Linked DNA regions of Homo sapiens: region 2 is linked to region 1. Evidence: fine-mapped expression QTL. A gene starts in region 1. The other region holds a variant in brackets. All regions are shown on one strand. Distances are between the middles of the regions. Region 1 holds the start of GOLPH3 (golgi phosphoprotein 3). Region 2 has its middle 27 kb from the start of GOLPH3.

Region 1 (5,000 bases):
AAAAAGTAACACTCATTGTTGTAATTAGGAATATTCTCATTCCTAAAATTCCTTCTTTTTTCCTTCCTAAAATATCCTTTCTTCCTCTTCCTGTTTTTAAAATATCTCCTTCCTTCCTCCCTCACTTCTTCCCCAGCTGCCCTCCACCCCCACCCATCATGATGGCTGGGGGTGGAGGGCAGCTGGGGAGGAAAAAAGCTGCATAGACTTTCATGACCTGAGAAGTGCCACACAGTCATGTTGGCCACATTCTATTCATTTCAAGAGAGTCACTAAGTCTGGCCCACACTCAGGGGGAGGGAAATTAGGCTTCACATTTTGAGGGGAGGAGTATCAGAGGATTTGTTGGCATTAAAACCTTCAGGAGAGAAAGGAGAACAACTGGGTGAACAGGGGCAGAGCTGGGAGGGAGATTTTCACTACACATATCTTTGTACTCTTTGAACTACATACTTGACTATATTAGTCAAGTAATTTTTTTTTTTTTTTGAGACGGAGTCTCGCTCTGTCACCCAGGCTGGAGTGCAGTGGCGCAATCTCTGCTCACTGCAAGCTCCGCCTCCGGGGTTCACGCCATTCTCCTGCCTCAGCCTCCCGAGTAGCTGGGACTACAGGGGCCCGCCACCACGCCCGGCTAATTTTTTGTATTTTTAGTAGAGACGGGGTTTCACCGTGTTAGCCAGGATGGTCTCGATCTCCTGACCTCCTGATCCGTCCGCCTTGGCCTTCCAAAGTGCTAGGATTACAGGCGTGAGCCAACGCGCCCAGCCAATTTTTTTTTTTTTTTTTTGAGACAGGGTCTTGCTCTGTCTCTCAGGCTGGTGTGCAGTGGCACGATCACCCTCATGGCAGCCTCAAATTCTGGGCTCAAGCGGTTCTCCTGCCTCAGCCTCCCGAAGACCTGGGACTACAGATGTGGGCCACTACTCCTGATTAACTTTTTTCACATAATAAATTAATTACATTTATTTTACAAAGAAATATTTCAAGCTACAACATTTGGTAAAATCAGAAAAGATGAAGAAAAAAGGTCCAAAGAGGGTGTGGGCTGGCGCGGTGGCTCACGCCTGTAATCCCAGCACTTTGGGAGGCCAAGGCCGGCGGATCACGAGGTCAGGTGATCGAGACCATCCTGGCTAACACGGTGAAACCCCGTCTCCACTAAAAATACAAAAAATTAGCCAGGCGTGGTGGCGGGCGCCTGTAGTCCAGCTACTCAGGAGGCTGAGGCAGGAGAATGGCGTGAACCCGGGAGGCAGAGCTTGCAGTGAGCCGAGATTGTGCCACTGCACCCCAGCCTGGGCAACAGAGCAAGACTCCGTCTCAAAAAAAAAAAAAAAAAAAAAAAAAAGAGGGTGTGAATGGGAGAAATTGGTTGAGGTGAAATCGACCTTCACCAAGACAGGTGGGAAAAAGGGAAGGTCTACTTGGTGTGCCCCCTGGACCCTCTCTTCCCTTCATTTAGCACTGTCACTTTCCAGGGCATGGGATGGTAGGCAGCAGCAGTTCTGGATAATGGATTTGTGGAAGAGAAGAATCCATCTAAAGCACTCTTTAGCCACAGCCCATGATCACTTTTTTTAAAAAATTTTTATTTTTTGCTTTGCTGTTGTTCCACTCTGTCCATACATTGTTTAATACAGGATGGCACACAATACCATTCCTGGTTAAATGTTTCACTTAACAAGCGCCACCCTCTACTCCTCCAACTCCTGTCTCAGGTTTGACAGCTATTTTTTTAACCTAATTTGCGCACGCCAAGAGGATTTCACCTAGTAACTACACGGAGAGACATCCGATGCGTACAAAGACGTGGCATGAAACGCTGCAGGTTTATTGTCTCTATAAAAAGATCGTTAAGGTCGAGCGTGCTAACGTGTGCGGTACTAACTGTACTCACTACGCCCTGGTCACTTTATAGCACAAGTCCGAGGCAAGGAAAGAAGTTTTACAAACAAAACTGGTCAACTGTTCTATCTTCTTACTCCTGGAAAACAATAAAGGTCCACTTTCAAACCATTTGGACGCACTTGCTCCTTCTAAAGGGTTAGGGAGTCCCGGCAGATAGCGTACCCCTCCCCGCCCAGCAGCAGAGAGCAAAGTCCTTCCTGCCGATCCTGCAGACCCCGGAGTCCAAATGGGACCCCGTCCACACGACCGCGGAGTCGCCTCCGAAGACGGCGGTGTCTGGGGCGTGGAGGGCACGGCTGGAGGCTGAGTGGGGTCCACCTTCGCGTGGCCCAGGCTCTTCCATTCACGGGGGGCCCCGCCAGGTTCAGGCTCCAGCCCTGGGTAGTGAAGGGGAAACGGGGAACGGAAGGAGGGAGGGCACGTCACGGGAGCAGGACTGCAGGACCGCGGGTCAGGGGGCGCAGGAACGCCAAAGAAAAGACAAGCACCGAGGGCCGGGAAGGGTGTAGGCTGCAGTGGCAGCGGATCCCCGGCCGCCGCTTCCGGCGCCTCCCGGCCCAGCTCTCCCGCGCCGACTCTGCCACATCCTCCGGTGACGTCAGCCGGGGCCGCCATATTGGAAAGGCGCCGCCGCCGCCTCCGCCTTGGAGCTCGGGGTGTTTCGGGGACTGCGGCCACAGGCAGGAAGGCGCTCCTCTCCTGCCCCGCCGACGCCCGGCCAGCCCGCTTCGCCCTGACCTGTTTCCTCATGACTGCCCCCGGCCCTGCTGCCGACGGACGTCGCCCCGGCGTCCGGATTTAACACGGAAACCCGGATCGGAGGCCGCGCGGGGAGGAGGAGGGCGACCCGGTCGGTCCTGCGACCCTCTCGGCCCGGCTCGGCGCCTCGGCGGGAGCCATGACCTCGCTGACCCAGCGCAGCTCCGGCCTGGTGCAGCGGCGCACCGAGGCCTCCCGCAACGCCGCCGACAAGGAGCGGGCGGCGGGCGGCGGCGCCGGCAGCAGCGAGGACGACGCGCAGAGCCGCCGCGACGAGCAGGACGACGACGACAAGGGCGACTCCAAGGAAACGCGGCTGACCCTGATGGAGGAAGTGCTCCTGCTGGGCCTCAAGGACCGCGAGGTGCGGGCGCGGCGGGCTGGGCGGGGGGCGGCGGCGCGGGGCCCGGGCGCCAGGTGAGCTCCAGGTAGGTGCCAGGTGAGCGCCCGAGGCTTCCGGCCCGCGCACCTGCCCTCGCTCCGAAGTCCGCGCCTGGTGGCGCCCAGCTGACGCCGAGCGGTGTCGGAGTTGGTTGACCCCCTGGCGCGGCTGGTGCTTTCTGGATCCTCCCCGTAGAGATGGCTTGGATTTTTCCTTACCCCTTTCACAGTCGCTCCTTTCATTTCGACACCCTGGCAGTTTGTATTTCTTCGTCGCCTTTTTTCCGCGTTTTTAACCCGTGTAGACCCCAGGGTGCAAATCCAACCCGGAGACTGCCCGGGAAACTAACAGCTGGAGCCACCAGCGCCACGAACTCTTTGGGTTTTTGCAGGCTTTAGGACCTGGGAGGGGTGCCCGGATCTGCTTGCTGGGGATGTTTTTTTTTTCTTCTTCTTCAGTTAAAGCTTACTGTTGGGAATTACGAAAAACGTAGGCGAAGTGGTAATAGAGGGAAAAGCTCTTTTACTGAGTAAAGTTAAGTTAAGTTTCTCATGAAACCTCCTGGTAAATGACTTTCTAGGTGAACTTACATTAGGTGAGAGATTATTTTTAGTATCGCTTTTATATTTTATCAGTTGATGAATCTCAAAGTCTTGCCGTCTTAAGAAAGGGCTTTTTCATCGAGTGCTTGAAATGTAGGTTTGTGAGTTGATCAGAGGCCTCAAAGCTTCAGGTGGGTTGAAGTTGCAATAGATAATTCTTTGTATTCTGACTTTGAAAGCGTTTATTTTCACTTCAGTGTCCAAAATTTTCACACACAGAAAAGTTGAAAAAGTGATAGATACATATGCATATATACTCTTTCTAGATTCTATGACGTTTTGCTGTATTTGTTATATTTGCCTACAAAAATGATTATTTATTTATGTGGAGACGGAGTTTCGCTCTTGTTGCCCAGGCTGGAGTGCAATGCCGCGATCTCGGCTTACCGAAATCTCCGCCTCCCGGGTTCAAGCGATTCTCCTGCCTCAGCCTCCTGAGGCAGGCATGCGCCACCATGCCCGGCTAATTTTGTGTTTTTGTTTTGTTTTGTTTTTGAGACGGAGCCTCAGTTTGTCGCCCAGGCTGGAGTGCAGTGGCGCGATCTCCACTCACTGCAAACTCCGCCTCCCGGGTTCAAGCGATTTTCCTGCCTCAGCCTCCCGAGTAGCCGGGACTACAGACGTGCGCCGCCATGCCCAGCTAATTTTCATACCTTTAGTAGAGACGGGGTTTCACCATGTTGGCCAGGATGGTCTCGATCTCTTGACCTAGTGATCCGCCTGCCTCGGCCTCCCAAAGTGCTGAAATTACAAGCTTGAGCCACCGCGCCCAGGCCTGATTTTAAGAAAGTTTTCCAAATTCAGGAAGGTGGGCAAAAAAAAAAAAAAAGTCTTACAAAACAACGTAATCTTTCTTGGTCACTGAAACTTACTAGATATAGGCGAGTTTTATATGGACCGTTTATGGACCTTTCTTATTTAGAAATCTAATGAACTAACGGTTAGCTTGATAGATACGTCTGGGGCATTTGCCATATCTTGGTTTCCCATTTCTCAGGTTTTAATAACAGTAACCTTGAAAAAAGTTGATGTTCCTCTGGCTGTGAAAGGGCTGCTGTACCTGTTTAATTATTGAGTTGTGATGATAAAGCAGGCTGTATGTGCAGTTCCTTGTTCTTTGGATGAAAAAGTAAACTAGGGGTATAGCGTCCTAGTAATGTAATTTTTAGAAAATATTCAACTTTAGGTTTCAAAATTGGAAATCTTGATTATAAACATTTGTCTTTTTTTTTTTCTTTTTTTAGACGGAATCTCGCTCTGTCGCCCAGGCCTGGAGTGCAGTGGCGCCATCTGGGCTCACTGCAACCTCCCCCTCCCGGGTTCAAGCGATTCTCCTGCCTCAGCCT
Region 2 (5,523 bases), 27 kb before region 1:
ATGTAAAAGCGACATCTCAATGAAACATATGAAATAACAGAAGTAGTTTATGACTTACAGATCCCAGAGGGAAGCGGGTGACTGCCTCACACACAGGGCTAATGGAAGGAGGGTGCTATCTTGGGACATGTGCGCTCCATCAACAAGTGGGGAGCAATAGACAGACAGAGAAACCTGTGGGTTTGGGCTCCAGGATGTTCCTCAGGTGAGTTTCCTGCAGGGAGTTCTACCTGGCAGGTTAACAGCAAGCAGGTGGCAGATCTCCGGAGTCACAATGGGACTGCAGCATATGTACAAAGTGCAGTGCGGGGATCAGTGGGACCAATGAAGTGGGTTGTATCCTGTTGTCCCTGGGAGGGAGTGGTCACCAGGTAGTGGTTGCATAAGGCAGACATCTGGATCCATTGCATTGAGGAACTGGGCAGAGGCAGAAAATGGGAAACTGGCCGGGCGCAGTGGCTCACGCCTGTAATCCCAGCACTTTGGGAAGCCGAGGCGGGCAGATCACGAGGTCAGGAGATCGAGGCCATCCTGGCTAACACGGTGAAACCCTGTCTCTACTAAAAAATACAAAAAAAGTTAGCCGGGCATGGTGGTGGGCGCCTGTAGTACCAGCTACTTGGGAGGCTGAGGCAGGAGAATGGCATGAACCCGGGAGGCAGAGCTTGTAGTGACCTGAGATCAGGCCACTGCACTCCAGCCTGGGTGACAGAACGAGCCTCTGTCTCAAAAAAAAAAAAGAAAATGGGAAACTGTGTCAAGGGTGACTAAACCTTGCCTCTGGTATGGGGAAGTCCACTTGTGTTCAAAATGAATGCAAAGTAAAATTATAGGAATTCACTACAAAGCTCCTTTCTCATGCCACGTCTTAGTATGGTTTAAGAGGATCTCCCCTTAAAGCCTATATGGGACGCTAGAAAGAAGTGGGAAAACCCGGAAATGACTGAAAACATCCTGAATTGACAGTTTCACCCAAATTGACTAAAATTAAGTTTTCATACAAAAGCAGAGTGAAGGCTTTAGATAGAAATTAAAGGCTGGGTGCGGTGGCTCATGCCTATAATCCCAGCACTTTAGGAGGCCGAGGCGGGTGGATCACTTGAGGTTGGGAGTTCGAGACCAACCTGGCCAACATGGTGAAACCCCATCTCTACTAAAAATACAAAAATTAGCTGAGCATGGTGTAGTGTGCCTGTAGTCTCAACTGCTCTGGAGGCTGAGGTGGGAGAATTGCTTGAACCCAGGAGGCGGAGGCTGCAAAGCCGAGATCTTGCCATTGCACTCCAGCCTGGGTGACAGAGCCAGACTCTATCTCAAAAAAAGAAAAATAAATAAATAAAGTCTAATTATAGACACACAAGATTATGTTTTTGCACACCTAACTTTGTATTCTGGATAATAAACTGGCAGGCTTTACTTAGTCATACAAGCTGAAATGTGGTTGGAAAACCATAAATTATACCATGAAATGTTCATTATATAAGAGGTTAAAAAATTCAGATTAGGATTTCTTCCCTAGTTCTATTTGGACCATGTGTGGACTTGGTGCAATGCTGGGTGGATATTTCCCTAAAGTATCATCAGTATTTCTAAACACACATTTCCACCCAACAACTGATCTCATCTACTGGAATGATTTCTCTTGAACTAACATTGGTGTTCATGAAATAAAACAAAAAGTCTTAGTCATAAGTGTAGCTGCTCTTTGGAGGGCAAAATCAAATGGTTGGGAGCAAATAAAAATTAAATTTTAGGCCGGGCATGATTTTGAATAATTCCAAACGTAAAGAAAAGTTGCAAAAATAATAGAGAACTCTCATATAGCCATGATTCAGATTAACCAAATTTTTTTTTTTTTTTTTTTTGAGATGGAGTCTCGCTCTGTCGCCCAGGCTGGAGTGCAGTGGCACAATCTCCGCTCACTGCAAGCTCTGCCTCAAGGGTTCACACCACTCTCTCACCTCAGCCTCCCGAATAGCTGGGACTACAGGTGCTCGCCACCACGCCTGGCTAACTTTGTTTTTGTATTTTTAGTAGAGACGGGGTTTCACCATGTTAGCCAGGATGGTCTCAATCTCCTGACCTCGTGATCTACCTGCATTGACCTCCTAAAGTGCTGGGATTACAGGCATGAGCCACCGCGCCCAGTCCAGATTAACCAACTTTTTTACATTTTGCCACATTTGTTTAATTATTCTCTCTTCTTCCCTCCCTCTGTATTTATTTTTTCCAAACCATTTGAGGTTATAAAGATCATGCCTTTATTATACTCTTAATACTTCAATGTGTAGTTCCTAAGAACAAATATAGTTTCTTACATAATCCAAATACAATTATCAAATCAGAAAATTTAACCTTGATACGTACTTTCACCTACTCTATAATCCATATTCCAATTTTGTCAATTATACCAATAAAGTTCTTTACAGCATCCCCCCAGTCCAAGTTTCAACCAAGGATCACATATATGCCTGAAGGGGTCATGTTTCTCTAATCTTCTTTAATCTGGAATGGTTCTTCAGAATTTCTTTCTCTTTCATGACATTGATATATTTAAAGAACACAAATCGGTTGTTTTATAGAATGTTCTTCAGTTGGGCTTGCCTGGTGTTTCCTCGTGACTTAATTCAGGTTTTTGGTCCCCTGCCAAACTATGAAAAAAGTGATGTTATATTCTTTTCAGGGTACCTGGAGGCACAGTGTGTCAATCTGTCCCTGGGTTAATTTTAGTCACCTGATCCCAGTATTGTCCAGTTTCTTCACTGATAAGTTACTATTTTTCTTTTGCAACTAATAAGTAATCTGTGGAGAGCCACGTTAGGACTGACTAAATATCCTGTCTTTCATCAGACTTTATCTCCCTAGATTTAGCAATCAATGCTATTTCTTGCCCAATTTTTTGCTTTGATGATAGCAAAACAGTGATTTTTCAACTCCATCCCTCCCTCCACATGTATCAATCTAATGTACATCTCACTATAAGGAAAGCCCTCCCTTACTACCTCCATCTATTTATTTACCTACTTATCAGCTGCCTGAATTGATGATTAATTTTTTTTTTTTTTTTT[TG/G]AGACGGAGTCTCGCTCTGTTGCCAGGCTGGAGTGCAGTGGCGCGTTCTCGGCTCAGTGCAACCTCTGCCTCCTGGGTTCAAGCGATTCTTCTGCCTCAGCCTCCGAAGTAGCTGGGATTACAGGCATGTGTCACCACGCCCGGCTAATTTTTTTGTATTTTTTTTAGCAGAGATGGGATTTCACGGTGCTGGTCAGGTTAGTCTTGAACTCCTGACCTCGTGATCCACCCGCCTCGGCCTCCCAAAGTGCTGGGATTACAGGTGTGAGTCACCGCGCCTGGCCTGATGATTAATGTTTTATTCAATAAGTTGTAATCCTTTACTGTCCTGATTTATTTTTAGCTCAAAATTATCCCAGACTTGGCCAGCGGGCTCTCCTTCTCCTTCAAACTAGCTCTTGTCCTTTTGACATGTCCCGATATTTTCCTTCCCTTCCCCTTCCTTCTCCTCCCCTCCCCTCCCCTTCCCTCCTTCCCCCCTCCCAACTCCACTCCCCTCCCCTCCCCTCCCTCCCTCCCTCCCTTCCTTGCTTCTTCCTTCCTTCCTTCTCACTTTCTTACTTTCTGGCATATCAGAATGTTCCTGTGTTCCTGGCTAACCTTGTGCTTTTCCTGCCCCAGCCCCGTATCCAGCCATTCTTCCAAGGAGTCCCAATTTTTTTTAAAGATAGAATAGGACTTAGAAAGACATGGGCACACCTCTTGCATTTTAAATGAGGAACTCATTGACCCCCAAAAAACATTGCTCATGATTGAATTGTTGGTATTCTGTCAGGTTAAGATTGTATTTTTCATTTGTTCCAAAATAAAGTAGAAGTATCCCTTGCCATTTCTTCTGAATATAAAAGCAATATATAATCACTATGAAAAATTCAGAAAATAAAAGCTAAGAACATATTAAAAATCACTTGTTGTTCTATCACTTAGAGTTAACCACCTTGAGATATTAATGGTGATGGTCATCATTAGGCAACTGTAATACTTCCCAGTATGAATGCACCAAAAATAATATATTTCACCAAAATACAATTGTTGGATATTCCCAGTTTCTCTGTGTGTGTGTGTGTGTGTGTGTGTGTGTGTGTGTGTGTGTATTTCTTCTGGGTAAAGTCCCAGAAATGTAATTGCTGGGTTAAAAATGTATGCATATTTATAAGCAAAGAAAATGTGCTCAACATTATTAATCATCAAGGAAATGAAAATTAAAACCACAATGAGACAGTGCCTTCATGTTTCCATGAAACATGCTCATAACACTCCACATATTTTATATATTTACACAAATATGTAAAACATGTTTAGCCAGCAATACCAGTTGTCGGCAAGAATGGAGAGCAACGGCTGGGCGCGGTGGCTCACACCTGTAATCCCAGCACTTTGGGAGGCCAAGGCGGGCGGATCACCTGAGGTCAGGAGTTCGAGACCAGCCTGGCCAAAACGGTGAAACCCTATCTCTACTAAATATACAAAAATTAGCCGGGCCTGGTGGCGGGTGCCTGTAATCCCAGCTACTTGGGAGGCTGAGGAAGGAGAATTGCTTGAACCTAGGAGGCAGAGGTTGCAGTGAGCCGAGATCGTGCCCCTGCACTCCAGCCTGGCGACAGAGTGAGACTCCTTCTCAAAAAAAAAAAAAAAAAAAAAAAAGAATGGCGAGCAACTAAAACTCTCTATACCACTGGTAGAATTGTAAGTCCTAATAACCACCTGTAAACACACACACACACACACACACGCACATAACTGAGCTACTTCCATGGAAATAATTTACCTGGGGTAGGAGAAAAACAAAAGTGATAATTGTGGAGTGTTATGAGCATGTTTCATGGAAGGGGACAGGGAGGGAAGTAAAGGATGGTAATAAGTTTCAGAAATGAAAGATGGAGGGACCTCCCTGCTTCCATCACGCCACTTTGTTACTCTCCCTACTTTACTCCTGATGAAATAGCACAGTGGAGAGACCACGGGGGCTGGACACTGGTACTTCATCTTGTCTATTTCAGTCATTTAAATCCCATCAGCCAAAGAACTGATCTCTTCAATCTCATCTTTCTAGATCGTAATTTCATATCATCCCTGTCTTAAGGTTCAACTCTTAGTTCAAATTCTAATAGCCTTTATAGGCTTATTTTTCTATTGCAAACCAAAAACATTCTTTTATTTTTGAAGTTAGGCAATCTGAAAGATGCCTGTCAATGAACACACAAACCACCATTGAAAAGAAACTTTTTGTCTGGGCGTGGTGGCTCACGCCTGTAATCCTAGTATTTTGGGAGGCTGAGGCGGGTGGATTGCCTGAGCTCAGGAGTTCAAAACCAGCCTGGCCAACATGGTGAAACCCCCGTGTCTACTAAAAATACAAAAAACATTAGCCGGGCATGGTAGCGCATGCTTGTAGTCCCAGCTACTCCGGAGGCTGAGGCAGGAGAATTGCTTGTACCGGGGGAGGCGGAGGTT

What was found. PIP is the estimated chance that this variant, and not a neighbour inherited with it, causes the effect. A credible set is the group of variants that fine-mapping cannot tell apart.
Region 2: its variant is the best candidate, but not a certain one, in a credible set for the expression of GOLPH3 in whole blood (INTERVAL, PIP 0.54).

Annotation. Positions count from the first base shown.
Region 1 is chr5:32,171,844-32,176,843 of GRCh38, reverse strand. It overlaps GOLPH3 (golgi phosphoprotein 3), which reads left to right and starts at 2,525. Exons shown (of 4, transcript NM_022130.4): 1 at 2,525-3,034. The coding sequence starts at 2,810. RefSeq lists a silencer at 2,632-3,241.
Region 2 is chr5:32,198,656-32,204,178 of GRCh38, reverse strand. No RefSeq gene overlaps it. Among named protein-coding and RNA genes, the nearest start is that of GOLPH3, 27 kb to the right of the region's middle. The variant TG/G (reference allele first, on the strand shown) is at 3,069.